Homo sapiens: one gene and its partner. The protein of the gene in region 1 purifies or fractionates together with the protein of each later gene. This does not show direct contact. Each region holds a gene or a part of one and is shown on either strand. Other genes may lie near its edges.

Region 1 (7,290 bases):
TTAATTTTTTTGTTTGGTGTGTATGTGTGTACATATATATATATATGTACATATATATATATACACATATAGAGAGAGAGAGAGAGAGAGAGTGAGAGAGAGAGAGACAGAGTCTCTCTCTGTCACCGAGGCTGGAGTGCAGTGGCACGATCGTGGCTCACTGCAACCTCCGCCTCCTGGCCTTAAGTGATCCTCCCACCTCAGCCTCTCAAAGTTCTGGGATTACAGGTGTGAGCCACCGTACCCAGCCTTGAATTTTTGTGTATGGCATGAGAAAGGAGTCCAACTTTATTCTTTTTCATGTGAATATTCAGTTGTTCTAGCGCCATTTGTTGAAAAGATACTCTTTCCCCATTGAATTGTCTTGGCATCTTTGTTGAAATCAGTTGATTGTAACTGTGAAGGTTAATTTCCGGACTCAGTTCTATTCCATTGAGTTGTATGTCCATCCTTATGCCATTACTGTCTTGATTCCTATAGTTTTGTAGTACTTTTTGAGATGGAAAAGTGTGAGTCTCCAACTTTGTTGTTTTTCAAGTTGGTTTTGACTATTTTGGGTCTCTTGCATTTCCATATGAATTTTAGGATCAGATTGTCAATTTCTGCAAAGAAGCCTACTGAGATTTTAATACCCCCATGTTGGCAAGAGTGTGGAGTTGAGTCAGTACATCAATTTGGGGAGGGAATATTGGCATGTCAACAATATTATGTCTTCTGATCCATGGACATAGGCTGTCTTTCTGCTTATTTAGGTCTTTTTAAAAACTCTTTGAACAATGTTTTATATTTTTTCTTTTGTTCGTTTTCCTTCCTTCCTTCCTTCCTTCCTTCCTTCCTTCCTTCCTTCCTTCCTTCCTTCTCTTTCTTTCTGTCTTTTTTTTTTTTTTTGTCCCACTGTCACCCAGTCTGGAGTGCAGTGGTGCCTGGCTCACTAACTACAACCTCCACCTCCCTGGCCCAGTGTGTCCTGCACTTCAGCCTCCTGTGTAGCTGGGACTATAGGCACACACAACCATGCCCAGCTGATCTTTATATTTTTAGTAGAGATGGGGTCTCACCGCATTGCCCAGGCTGGTTTCTAACCCTTTGGCTCAAGCCATCCACCTTGCCTCAGCCTCCCAAAGTGCTGGGATTATAGGTATGAGCCACTGTGCCTGGCCCATATTTTTTCATAATATAAGTTTTGTATTTCTTTTGTTAAATTTATTTTTTAGTATTTGTTTTTGATCCTATTGTAAATTGTTTTCTTAATTTTAATTATTTTTGGATTGTTTATAGCTAGAGTATAGAAATTTAATTGCTTTTTGCACATTCATGTTATATCCTGTAAACTTGCATAACTCATTTATTAGTTCTATTATGTATTTCTTTTTAAATTGTGAAATAACATGTATGTGGTAAAAAGGTCAAATAGTGCGCAAGGGAATATAAGGAAAAGTGAATCTTCTGCCCTCTCACCCCTGCTCCCACTAAGCTAAACTATTGTTTAGTTTTTCTTAAGCTGTTTCAAGCTGAAGAAAGGAGTGGGATATTAAAAAACAGTGCTTCACTGTTAGCTGAATATCTTTTTTTTAGACAGGGTCTTACCCTATCACTCAGGCTGGAGTGCAGTGGTACAATCATAGCTCACTGCAGCCTCAGCCTTCTGGGCTTAAGCAGTCCTCCCACTTAAGCCTCCTGAGTAGCTGGGACCACTGTTGTGCACCACAATGCCTGGCTAATTTTTTTAATTTTAATTTTTGTAGAGGTAAGGTCTCCCTCCCTATGTTGCCCAGGCCAATCTTGAACTCCTGGGCTCAAGCAGTCCTCCCACCTCAGCCTCCCAAGGTGCTGGGATTACAGGCGTGAGCCACCGCACTGGGCCTTCTTTTACTTTTGACCTTGTGCTTGTTTTTTTCTTCTTGGAGGATTACATATAAGTCAACTAGACTCCCTAGTTTATTCTCTTTTTACTTACACTGTTAAGAAAATGAGATCTGGAATGTGAAACAGATGTGATTCCTTATCTGATTCTGTCTTCAGGGGTCAGAAAAACCTTTGGTGTGGCAGAAAGACATGGGTATTTGGGTGTTTATACCTGGAAGAGATTTCTTACCCCTAACATGGTCTTTGTTGGGAGAAACGAAAAATAGTGCATGGCTAGAAACTAGGTTTGTGCCCAGGACCTCTGGCATGAGGACTGGAAGAAAGTTACTGACGATTAATGTTCGACTTCACCCTTACTCTTTTAGTCCCAGTTGGGTCTTATCCTGGATTCTTCACATTTTTAACTGCTTCTGTTAGCATGCTCTAAATGTGAGAGTTCTAATTGTTTGTTGGCGTTTGTGGGCAAACAGTAAATGGTCAGATTAATACCAGGGAATATCAGAAAATTAACAGGTTTCAAATTGCTATTTGTAAACCTAAAGGCTAAAAGTAATACAATTAAATAGGCAAGTATATGTGGTCATTAAAATTCAAGTAGGCAAACAATCAGATAATTGTATGTTGCATATTATCCTGATCTCTTTAAGCACAGTGTTATCTTTGGGAATAAATTATTAGATGTATAAATTACTTTTATCTCTGAAACATCATGTTGAGTTTACCAGTATTACAGCCAATCCCCCAAAGCTTTCTGTTTGCCACAGTTTAATTTACTAAAGAATATATAAATACCAGTGAGGGACAGGACAAATTCAAAGAGGCATTTGAACCCAAAATTATTTCTTAAAACCACTTGAGTTAAATATATTCAGGTGAGAAATTCACGTGTGAGTTCTTTTTCTTTTCTTTTAATGGAGAGGACCAGCCATGTGGGTAGAGGAGAGAAGTAGGGCTTCAAAATACAAGACTTAGTTTTGAAGGGGTGGGAGTGCCAGGGAGGGGACTAGGAGAGGCTGGTCATGAACCAGAGTGCTGTGACTGTCCTGGACAACCTCCCTGTTAGATGGGCAGAGGTGCAGGCACTCTAGAGACCCTCCTGGAGAACCCTGCTGAGAGGTTCCTCGGCTATGGCAGAGCTACCGATAATTCTTCCTTAGGGCAGGTGTTCAAGGCAGGCCGGCTTTAGTGGCTCCATGCCACAGCAAGTTCTCTAAGCTCAGTGGGCCTCAGTTTCTTTATATGTGAAATGGGGATGGTGGTGTTTGCCTCAAAGTATAGTTTTAAAGACTAAATAAGTTATCATTATTATTTTTGTTTTTTTTTTAGAGACAGGGTCATACTTTGTCACCTAGGCTGGAGTGCAGCGGCACAATCTTGGCTCACTGTAGCCTCGAGTTCCTGGCCTCAAGTGATCTTATCTCCTTGGTCTCCCAAAGTACTAGGATTATAGGCGTGTGCCACTGCACCCAGCCTGAGTTAAATGTTTTTAAGATGAGCTTAACTTGTTCAGTAACAATAAAATAATGTATTTTGATTTTTTTTTTCCCCTGGAAAGTATGTTGTCAGTGATCATGGAAAGGCCTTGGGATGCGGTGTACATGCTTTCATTTGTTTTGTTTTCATGCCTTCAAATAAAATTTTAAAACTATCTGGGCCGGGCATGGTGGCTCATGCCTATAATCCCAGCACTTTGGGAGGCTGAGGCAGGTGGATCACCTGAGGTCAGGAGTTCGAAACTAGACTAGCCAACATGGTGAAACCCCGTCTCTACTAAAAATACAAATATTAGCTGGGTGTGGTGGCGGGCGCCTGTAATCCCAGCTACTCGAGAGGCTAAGGCAGGAGAATCGCTTGAACCTAGGAGTTGGAGCTTGCAGTGAGTCAAAATCGCGCCACTGCACTCCAGCCTGGGTGACAAGAGCAAGACTCTGTCTTAAAAAAACAAACAAACACTTTGGGAGGCTGAGGTGGGCGGATCACAAGGTCAGGAGATCAAGACCATCCTGGTTAACACAGTGAAACCCCGTCCCTACTGAAAATACAAAAAATTAGCCCGGCGTGGTGGTGGGTGCCTGTAATCCCAGCTACTCGGGAGGCTGAGGCAGGAGAATGGCATGAACCCGGGAGGCAGAGCTTGTAGTGAGCCGAGATCGCGCCACTGCACCCCAGCCTGGGCGACAGAGCAAGACTCCGCCTCAAAAAACAAACAAACAAACAAAAAAACTATTTGAACTTAAACCCCAATAATAGTAGATATTTTATTTTCCAATCAGTTGTGTCTATAGAATGTCTTTTGATATGACAATGGCTGAGAATTCTTTGACAGGTTTTGCAACTCAGATTTTCTCAAAGAATCTTGTTTACCTTCCATAGCCCCTTTGTTTATTGAAAGCAAAATATTCTTAGTTCCCTTGAATCCCAGTGTTCCTGCCATTCTGGATGTCTCCATGCTGTGGCGTGGGGCCCTTTTTGGGGTGGGATTCCCCAGCACAGAGCCTGCTAATACATAAGGGTGTGGTACTCCCATTGAGTCTATTTGGCATCAATCAGCAGGCGGGTTTGCACTGAGCGGTACTAATCCTAGCTTGCCCAAGCGATTGTAGTTGTTCTTTTAAAAGCATCATCTTTTTTTGGTCTCCTGGCCTAAAATTTCAGAAGCAGGAACTGGGGGTTATGGGGGTTGGGTATAAAAGGTAGCTAAACCTGATTATCCTGGCTTGAAATAATGGCAGGAATAATAGGCTTGTTAACTTTGATCCTAGCTGTTACCTTCTACTTACCAGCCTCCCTGCTGAACCAGCCTCTCTGCTGAACCAGCCTCTGCTGAACCAATTGGAATTTGGTGGGGACTCCTCTGAACGGCTTTTCTGGGTCCTCACCTTCAGGATACTGCTAGATGTGCCCAACAAGTATCTCCCATTCCCAGCAGGGATACTTTTGATTCTTGGCCTTCCCGAGAGCCTCAGGCCTGGGATTGGCCACTTGGGTCCAAGCAGTGTCTCTAGTTTGGCATAATTGGGCTACTCCGAGGAGCAGGACTCTCAGCTGTTATGAGTGATGCTAGGAGCCAGGCACAGTGGCTCACGCCTGTAATCCTAGCACTTTGGGAGGCTGAGGCGAGTGGATTGCTTGAGCCCAGGAGTTCGAGACTAGCCTGGGCAACATGGGGAAACCCCGTCTCTACTAAAAATACAAAAATTATCTGGGTACGATGGCATGCATCTGTGGTCCCAGCTACTCAGGAGGCTGAGGCGGGAGGATTGCTTGAGTCTGGGAGGTCAAGGCTGCAGTGAGCTGAGACTGGGCCACTGCACTCCAGCCTGGGTGACAGAACGAGACCCTGTCTCAAAAAACAAAACAAAAGACACACAAAAAAGTGATGCTAGGGAGGCCTTTGGCAGAGAATGGATTTCCTTAATTGTGAATGTGGTGGTGGTGCTTCTGGAAATGGAAATCAACAGCACTTTGTGGAGGGGCTTTTGCACAGAATACATATATGAACCATAAAGAAGTCCCATTTCCCCTCCCTAGGTTCTCTTCATACAAGAAATGGTAGTTAGCTCCATTGTTTCCTCTGAATACTTTCCTTTGTTTTCTTTCTTGAAGGACTGCCACCAACTCCTGTCCAGCTGCTCTATCCAGTGTCCCGATTCAGCAATGTCAAATCCCTCCAGCACCTTTGCAGATTCCGGATACGACAGCTCGTCAGGATAGATCACATCCCAGATCTCCCACTGCCTAAGTACAATGGGGTTGTCAGGTTTGGGACAGGAATGAGTAAGGGGGTTGTGGGGAGGTAACAATGTCAGTGAGGCCTGCAAGCTACCTTCACAGGCAGAGTCTGGCATAAAATATTTGCAGATGTCATTCTTACACATTTCCTGTGTCTTAGCACCTAACTCTAGAACTGTCATATTGCAGCCAGAGGGAGGAAGGTGTGTGTGTCAGCCTTCCTTCTGCAGTCTCTAGGAAGAATAGAGTAGAAGTGGTAAGAGTAAGGAAGACAGAACTATAATAACTGAGAAAATGGGGATTGTGTTAGGTCTCAACCATGTAGGGAGTGAAGAAGAGTTGAACAAAGGAGTTACTTCTTTTATATTTTGTATAAAAACCTTTTGTGTATATCCGTCATTTGTTTTTCACAGACCTCTGATCTCTTATATCCGAAAGTTCTACTACTATGATCCTCAGGAAGAGGTATACCTGTCTCTAAAGGAAGCGCAGCTCATTTCCAAACAGAAGCAAGAGGTGGAACCCTCCACGTAGCGAGGGGCTCCCTGCTGGTCACCACCAAGGGTATGAGCTCTCTGCCTCACTGCCCAGCCACATTTCTTCCTGGGCAGTCATCATCATGCATTGAGCCTTGGGCCCCCTCCCCACAACTCCCAACATGGATAGCCCCGATCCAGGCATTTGCCCATAGAATGACAAGATCTGACCGTGGAGTCCTCAAGGGGCACACACCCCATTTGGGAGAAAAGCAGACAGACGAGAAAGACAAGAAAGTAGATTGCCAGGAAACGTGCAAGCTAATCACTGAATGTGAGCAAGGAGGGGGACACCCAAGTGTAGCTAAGAGTGCGGCCTCTGGCAAGGAGAGGGTAATTGAAAAAAATAAGAAGAAGAGTGCAGCCTCCTCTCATACAGACTTGGGCTGATCTCCCTGATACTGCACAAATGGCATATAAAGCAGGAAGCTAAAGGGAAAGGAAACTTCATCAAAGAGAATGCAAACATGCCTTTAATTGCAACAGGCATGCACTTCAGTGAGACTCCACCATGTCCCACAGCTTGGAATATGGGGATGAGGAAAAACAGCCCACTCTTCTATTTAGCGTTCCATTTGGGCCATTACAAAGTAAATTGTTGAAACTAAGGAATTCATTTATCTACGAGGCTCTTCTCCCATCATTACACAGTTCTACCCATTTATTTTCCCATAAAACATCTTGCAATACTGGTTTGTGCAGATGAATTCCAATTAGTCTTTTAAATTGCACTAAAGTGAACATTGTGGGGCCAAGTTCCTGAGTAGGGAACACAATTGCCAGGGAGCCATGACTTTGGTGGTGGTGGTGACAAGCAAGATTGACTGCCAGTGTGCAGTGACTGCTTTCTTCTGGTGTGGATCCTGGAGTAGATGTACAGTCTCATCATGTCTTCAATTATATGCAAATTGTATGCCTTTGGAAATGACTAAATATCTAATGTCTTGTGTCTAGGTGGATTTCTCTGCATGATGGCTTTGCAGTTGAGATTAGGGTGAGAGGTAGAGCACTAGGGAGGTCCACCTACCTGACTACCCTTGAAGAGTAATTAGGCCATTCAGTTAGAGGACCACGTCTGTGGGTGCAGTGCTGTAGAAGAACCCATATAAACAGGGAGCATGTTCAGAGAAAGGCCTTGTGGCATTGGAGAGCTCAA
Region 2 (5,654 bases), on another chromosome or scaffold:
CAGCTTACTGCAACCTCCACCTCCCAGGCTCAAGCAATCCTCTTTCTTCAGCCTCCTGAATAGCGGGGACCACAGACACACGCCACCATGCCTGGCTAATTTTTGTATTTTTTATAGAGATGGGGTTTCGCCATGTTGCCCAGGCTGTTCTCAAACTCCTGGACTCAAGCAATCCACCCACATCACCCTCCCAAAGTGCTAAGATTACACACATGAGCCACCACACCCGGCATATACATGCCTTTTGTTGGGTAAAGAGAGAGCTGGTACTGGAAAAGGTAAAAGAGAAAAGAATATTTAATGATTTTCTGATAACTCTTATTGTAAACTTAACAGTAATTAAGGAAATCATCAAGAAAAATTTTGATAAAATGACCTAGATGAAAAAGATTTATTTCTTTAGAAACTTAAAAGTGACTGGGCATCGTGGCTTACACCTGTAATCCTAGCACTTTGGGAGACCAGGGCAGGGGAGTATTTGAGTCTGGGGGTTCAAGACCAACCTGGACAACATAGCAAAACCTTGTGTCTGTATTTAAAGAGAAGAAGGGGAAAAAAAAAACCTTAAAAACATTTAATTGAGTCAATATAAACTGAAGATAATATTTGTAGCAAATATAATTAATTAATCTGGTAAATATATAAAGAGTACTACTTAATGACTTTTAAAACAGACCCCACCTGACCTGTACTGCTATACAAAGAAATAACTGAATACAAGGGAAAAATTTGGTGTAAGGGGTTTGTTATATTTTAATTAATGTTTAACATGATACCAGGTTATATACACATTGTTTTCACAGGTAAGATAACTTTTAAGAATGTGAATGGCATGGGAAAAAAGGAATTGAAGGAAATAATATTAAAACATTAGGTGTAGTTTTCTTTCAGCAGAGAAGCAGAGGTAATTTTGCTTTTCCTTATTTTTCAAAATCTCTATAGTCAGATTTTTTTTAAATACATACTTTAAGTTCTGGGATACATATGCAGAATGTGCAGGTTTGTTACATGGGTATACACGTGTCATGGTCATTTGCTGCACCCATCAACCCGTCATCTACATGAGGTGTTTCTCCTAATGCTTATCCCTCCCCTATCCCCCCACCCCAATAAGCAGATTCTCTTTTATGGGGCATGAGAAAACAAAAGATGTTTTTATTTGTTAAGTAAAAGATACTAGTCTCAACATTAATCCCCTAGTGATTATTATTCATTTGGGTAGATGTTGGATAGAGGATGAATATGCATAAAAAGTCATTTTTCAGTTTGTTGTACTTAAAATAATTTCGTATATTAATGCGCTTTTATTTTTATTTTTTCTTTTAGGAAGCTATCATACAAATAATGAAAATGAGAAAGAAAATTAGTAATGCTCAGCTGCAGACTGAATTAGTAGAAATTTTGAAAAACATGTTCTTGCCACAAAAGAAAATGATAAAAGAGCAAATAGAGTGGCTAATAGAGCACAAATACATCAGAAGAGATGAATCTGATATCAACACTTTCATATATATGGCATAATTTTGAATATCATGGACAATATTTAGAACCCAAATTTTGGAGTGCTTGGGCAGAAAGTTGTAAAGTTTGTGCTGGAGAAAGGTTTATTTGGACTTTGATTACATAAATATTAAAATCTCTGCCTTACCTTACAAAAACAACTATATTTTGCCAATCACATTAGTTAGCATGATGGCATTCCCTTCATGTTGCACACTCTTTGACAGCATGCTGTTTTGTGGAGAAACTTGCATTCATGAAGAGCCCATTATCAACTTTTAAAAGTGAATTTGATTTGTACCCACCAGGAGAAATACAGTTGGGAAGGGTGAGGGTGGGGTTCTTGTTGCTTTTTTCTCTTTTTTCCTCTCTTAAAAAATGTACTTGCACAAGGAAGGATCTTCAGATATTCATGCACTGAAAAATGCTGTTATCTTTTGTTTTTAAAAAATGCAATTAAAACTAGAAATAGCACTCTTGGTTTCTTTTGATGAAAAGAGTGAGCTGGTCAATGCAACATTGGGAAACGGCAGATGTAGGTGAGAAGTTAAGTATTTAATAGTATCAAATTGTTCAAACATTGCTCAGTATAATAACTGGATTTTAATGGTGACCTAAAAATGGTATTAAATATTTTCAACTTTCAAATGTTGGTTTTCTTTAAGCAGGAGACTGCTATTTTAGTTGTTGTTAAATGATGAGGAGTTTTTTTTTTTTTAAATATGGCTGGAAAGCTTGTTTTGAAAAATGAAGCTTATATTAATTGTTGCTTCAATAGTTTAAAAAATTTATGGAGATAGGTAGGTCATTATGATTGCAGAGCCAAAATAGCAAAACAAACATATTAAGTGTGTTTACTAAACATATTGTGTGTTTACTAACACACTTAATGTTTATATACCTAATATTTATTATGCCATATCTGAATTTATTAAAAACAACACAGAAATCTCCTGCTCTGATATAGTTATGTAACTGATCTCTTAATCTGTAGCATAGAAGTATTTTGGTATTTTAAGGTCTCATGATTAGGGATTTGTAGCCTCAGGTTTGAATCAGTCACCTAGGGGTAAGAGAAAAACCACAACATAAGACCTGAAAAACAGAAGCAAAATTGTTGCACTCTTAATACGAGCAGTAAACTTGCCAAATATATGTACATATATATTTATATATTTTAAAAATAAACATTTTTTAAATCGTCAGAAGGCAACATTTACCATGTTCCTTTCAGTCTATCCAAAGTAGCAACTTAACTAGTTGCTGGCAACTGAATACCCAGAGTAGTGGAAATTTTAGGACTTGAGGACGTGAACAACTTGAAAGAGAAAATTGATTCCCCTTGAGGAAAGAATGGCTCAACGTGGATTTTTATTCATTGTGGTGCACGTTTCAAATTTTCTTGCAAATTATTTTATATCTTATTTGATGTTAAGTAATATTTTTAAAGTATGGTTTTTGAAGATAGTAGGAAATGGAGTACAGAAAGGCATACAGTATTATGTTACAGTGGAGTGCTTTCAAGAGCATTTCGTAGGATCTGTCCCCATCCGAAGAGGCTTTGTGAACTGCCTGCTGAATGGAAGGAAAGCAACTTTAAAACATTTAGAGTTTTGCTGAGTATAGCCAAATGCCTGTTCTGAAACTTATAGGAAATTGGAATTTTGTTTAAAATTTTACACTTTAAGGTAGCAAATGTCAATTATTAGACCGAGCATATTGTGAAGAATTAAACTAAAATTAATACGTACAGTTTTCTCTAATTAGGTGACTGTTCATAATGGGTATATTTGGAATTTAGAAGAAATAATTTTGTAGTAATTGTGGCCCTTATGTTTAACAGATAATTCAGCATTGGCGTATTTGCTTGTCCCAATACAAGAATGCCAAAGGAGGAAACAGGAAAAATTGCCGTCCATTTTAAAAATTTAGGTTTGTTGTTTTAAACCATAATTGTTCTCAGAACTTTTTTGGAACTTCTAATTTTGGGTCATTTAATTTAAGAATGAGAGTCATGATGTTTTGATTTATGAAGGTGAATTTAATGCAAAAGTGGGTAACACTACATTCATAGCAAAGTTTTTTATTAAATTTTATAAATTTTTAATAGCCAATTATGTCCTAATTGTATTTTGGGGAATGAACAGCAGCAAATACTGTAAATGTACAGTTTTCTTTTTTTTTTTTTTTTGGTTATGTATACAAAAGTTTTAACTACTTTTTGGTGTTTATGAAAATCATTTAGTTGACAAGGTGCCTATGCCATTGTTAAATTTTCTTTAAGTAATTTAACAACAGATTTGCTAATTTAAAAAAAAATGAAAAAAAAAATCTTACCAGCAGTTTGTAAAGGTCTGGAATCACAGTTGGCATCCTTTATTCAGGTCTCTTCTCTCCAGCGTACACTTAAAATTGGTGCCGAGCAGGGATATAACCTGCAGTTAAGTGAAAAGAAAATCCAGCCTCCCCCTCCAAAAAAAAAAAAAAAATTTAATTTTTAAAAATTAGTGGTATGGCAATAAGACACTTCAGAGGCTATCTTAACCTCTGAATACCCATCTTCTAGTTTAAAGACAGAGACATCCCATCTGGAAAATGTTAACTTGTGTTGCCATCTCGTTGCCGGAGTAAGTAGACATAAGACAGAGTTTAAGAAGTAAAAATATAGAAAAATTTTGATGGTCACAATGAGATAAATATTAGAATATTACTATTCCAATGATTAAATGAGGATCTTGAAATAAATTCTGAAGTCTTCCAATTTTTACATTTATTGGAGGGGTCCCTGAGTTCTGTCAACTTTTTTATTTAAGTCTCTTGCTCTTATTTTGTGCATAAATGTTAAACCTTCCAAAAATGAAATGTTAGCTTTCTTTCTTTTACTTTTTATTAAATTTAATAGAAAATATGACCTGAGTAGTTAAAAAGTATTTTGCATTATTTGCAGTAAGATGTCTCTAGCACTGCTCAAAGGGCAAATTTTAAAACTTCAGTCTGGGTGAAAGATTTGCTAGTTTTACAGAAAGATTTGCTATCTTAAACTCAAGCTGGTTTTTCTGTTCTCATGTAAGTGACTGGGATGCTGTCTTATGAATTCTTCCAAGGTCATGTTTGTGAAATAAACATTACATGAGAGCTTTCCTGTCATCTACACTATATGTTGTCTGGAGTGTTGAACAAATTTATTTTAGTTTCTAAGTTGTAATCTATCCTCATATGGTCTATACGATTTTGAATGTGTGCCACTACATACTGAGATGATAATGCTGTACAATTTTAAGTGGTAGCAGTTTCTGTATGCAGTAGGCTGAAATATTTTGATGAACTGCTTAATTTTTGGATTTTATTTTTTAAGTTGTATAATTTATTTTCTTGCAAAATAAAAATGTAATATAAAAGCTTTTACCTATCCAGAAAATGTTGATGTTCTACTATAAAATAGTTACAAAGAGTTTAATTAAAATTTTTATAGTAGGTATATTTTTAAATTTGAAGGTAAATTAATCTCAGCCAGCCTTAGGAATCAGAAATATGAAAAGTAACCCACTTATTTATATTAGACTTCAAATTCTAATTCAAAATGAGAGCAGTCAGGAATGTAGCTTTTCCACTGATGATAGCATGTGGCTATATGCCTGGAAGAGGTAATAAAAAAAAAAAAATTCCAACCTGAAAGTGGTTAATATATTCATCAACTAAGATAGGCTATGTCATAACAAAATTCAAATTTTATAGCAGATAAAAGTAAAAAATGGGCCGGGCTCAGTGGCTCACGCCTGTAATCCCAGCACTTTGGGAGGCCAAGGTGGGTGGATCACCTGAGGACAGGAGTTCAAGACCAGCCTGGCAAACATGGTGAAACCCTGTCTCTACTAAAAATATAAAAATTAGCCGGGTGTAGTAGCGCGCGCCTGTAGTCCCAGCTACTCGGAAGGCTAAGGCAGGAGAATCGCTTGAACCCGGGAGGCGGAGGTTGCAGTGAACCAAGATTGTGCCACTGCACTCCAGCCTGGGCGACAGAATGAGACTGTCTCAAAAAAAAAAAAAAAAAAAAAAAAAAAGTAAAAAATGTAAAACATAATCATTTCACATTTTGGATATATTTGAAAATTTGTGAAATACTTATTTTTGTTTTTATTTTTATTTTTTGAGAC

The links.
Region 2: the proteins of SOCS7 (region 1) and CUL5 purify together in Homo sapiens (affinity purification with mass spectrometry; 5 studies listed by BioGRID and IntAct, with this or other methods). This does not show direct contact.

What each region holds. Positions count from the first base shown.
Region 1 is NC_000017.11:38,389,837-38,397,126, forward strand, and holds part of SOCS7 (suppressor of cytokine signaling 7), read left to right. Parts: intron 1-5,472; coding exon 5,473-5,608; intron 5,609-6,011; coding exon 6,012-6,132; 3' UTR 6,133-6,162; intron 6,163-7,290. UniProt on the Homo sapiens protein: Substrate-recognition component of a cullin-5-RING E3 ubiquitin-protein ligase complex (ECS complex, also named CRL5 complex), which mediates the ubiquitination and subsequent proteasomal degradation of target proteins, such as DAB1 and IRS1.
Region 2 is NC_000011.10:108,102,864-108,108,517, forward strand, and holds the end of CUL5 (cullin-5), read left to right. Parts: intron 1-1,326; coding exon 1,327-1,521; 3' UTR 1,522-3,343; coding exon of another isoform or gene 3,344-3,424; 3' UTR 3,425-4,898; downstream 4,899-5,654. UniProt on the Homo sapiens protein: Core component of multiple cullin-5-RING E3 ubiquitin-protein ligase complexes (ECS complexes, also named CRL5 complexes), which mediate the ubiquitination and subsequent proteasomal degradation of target proteins.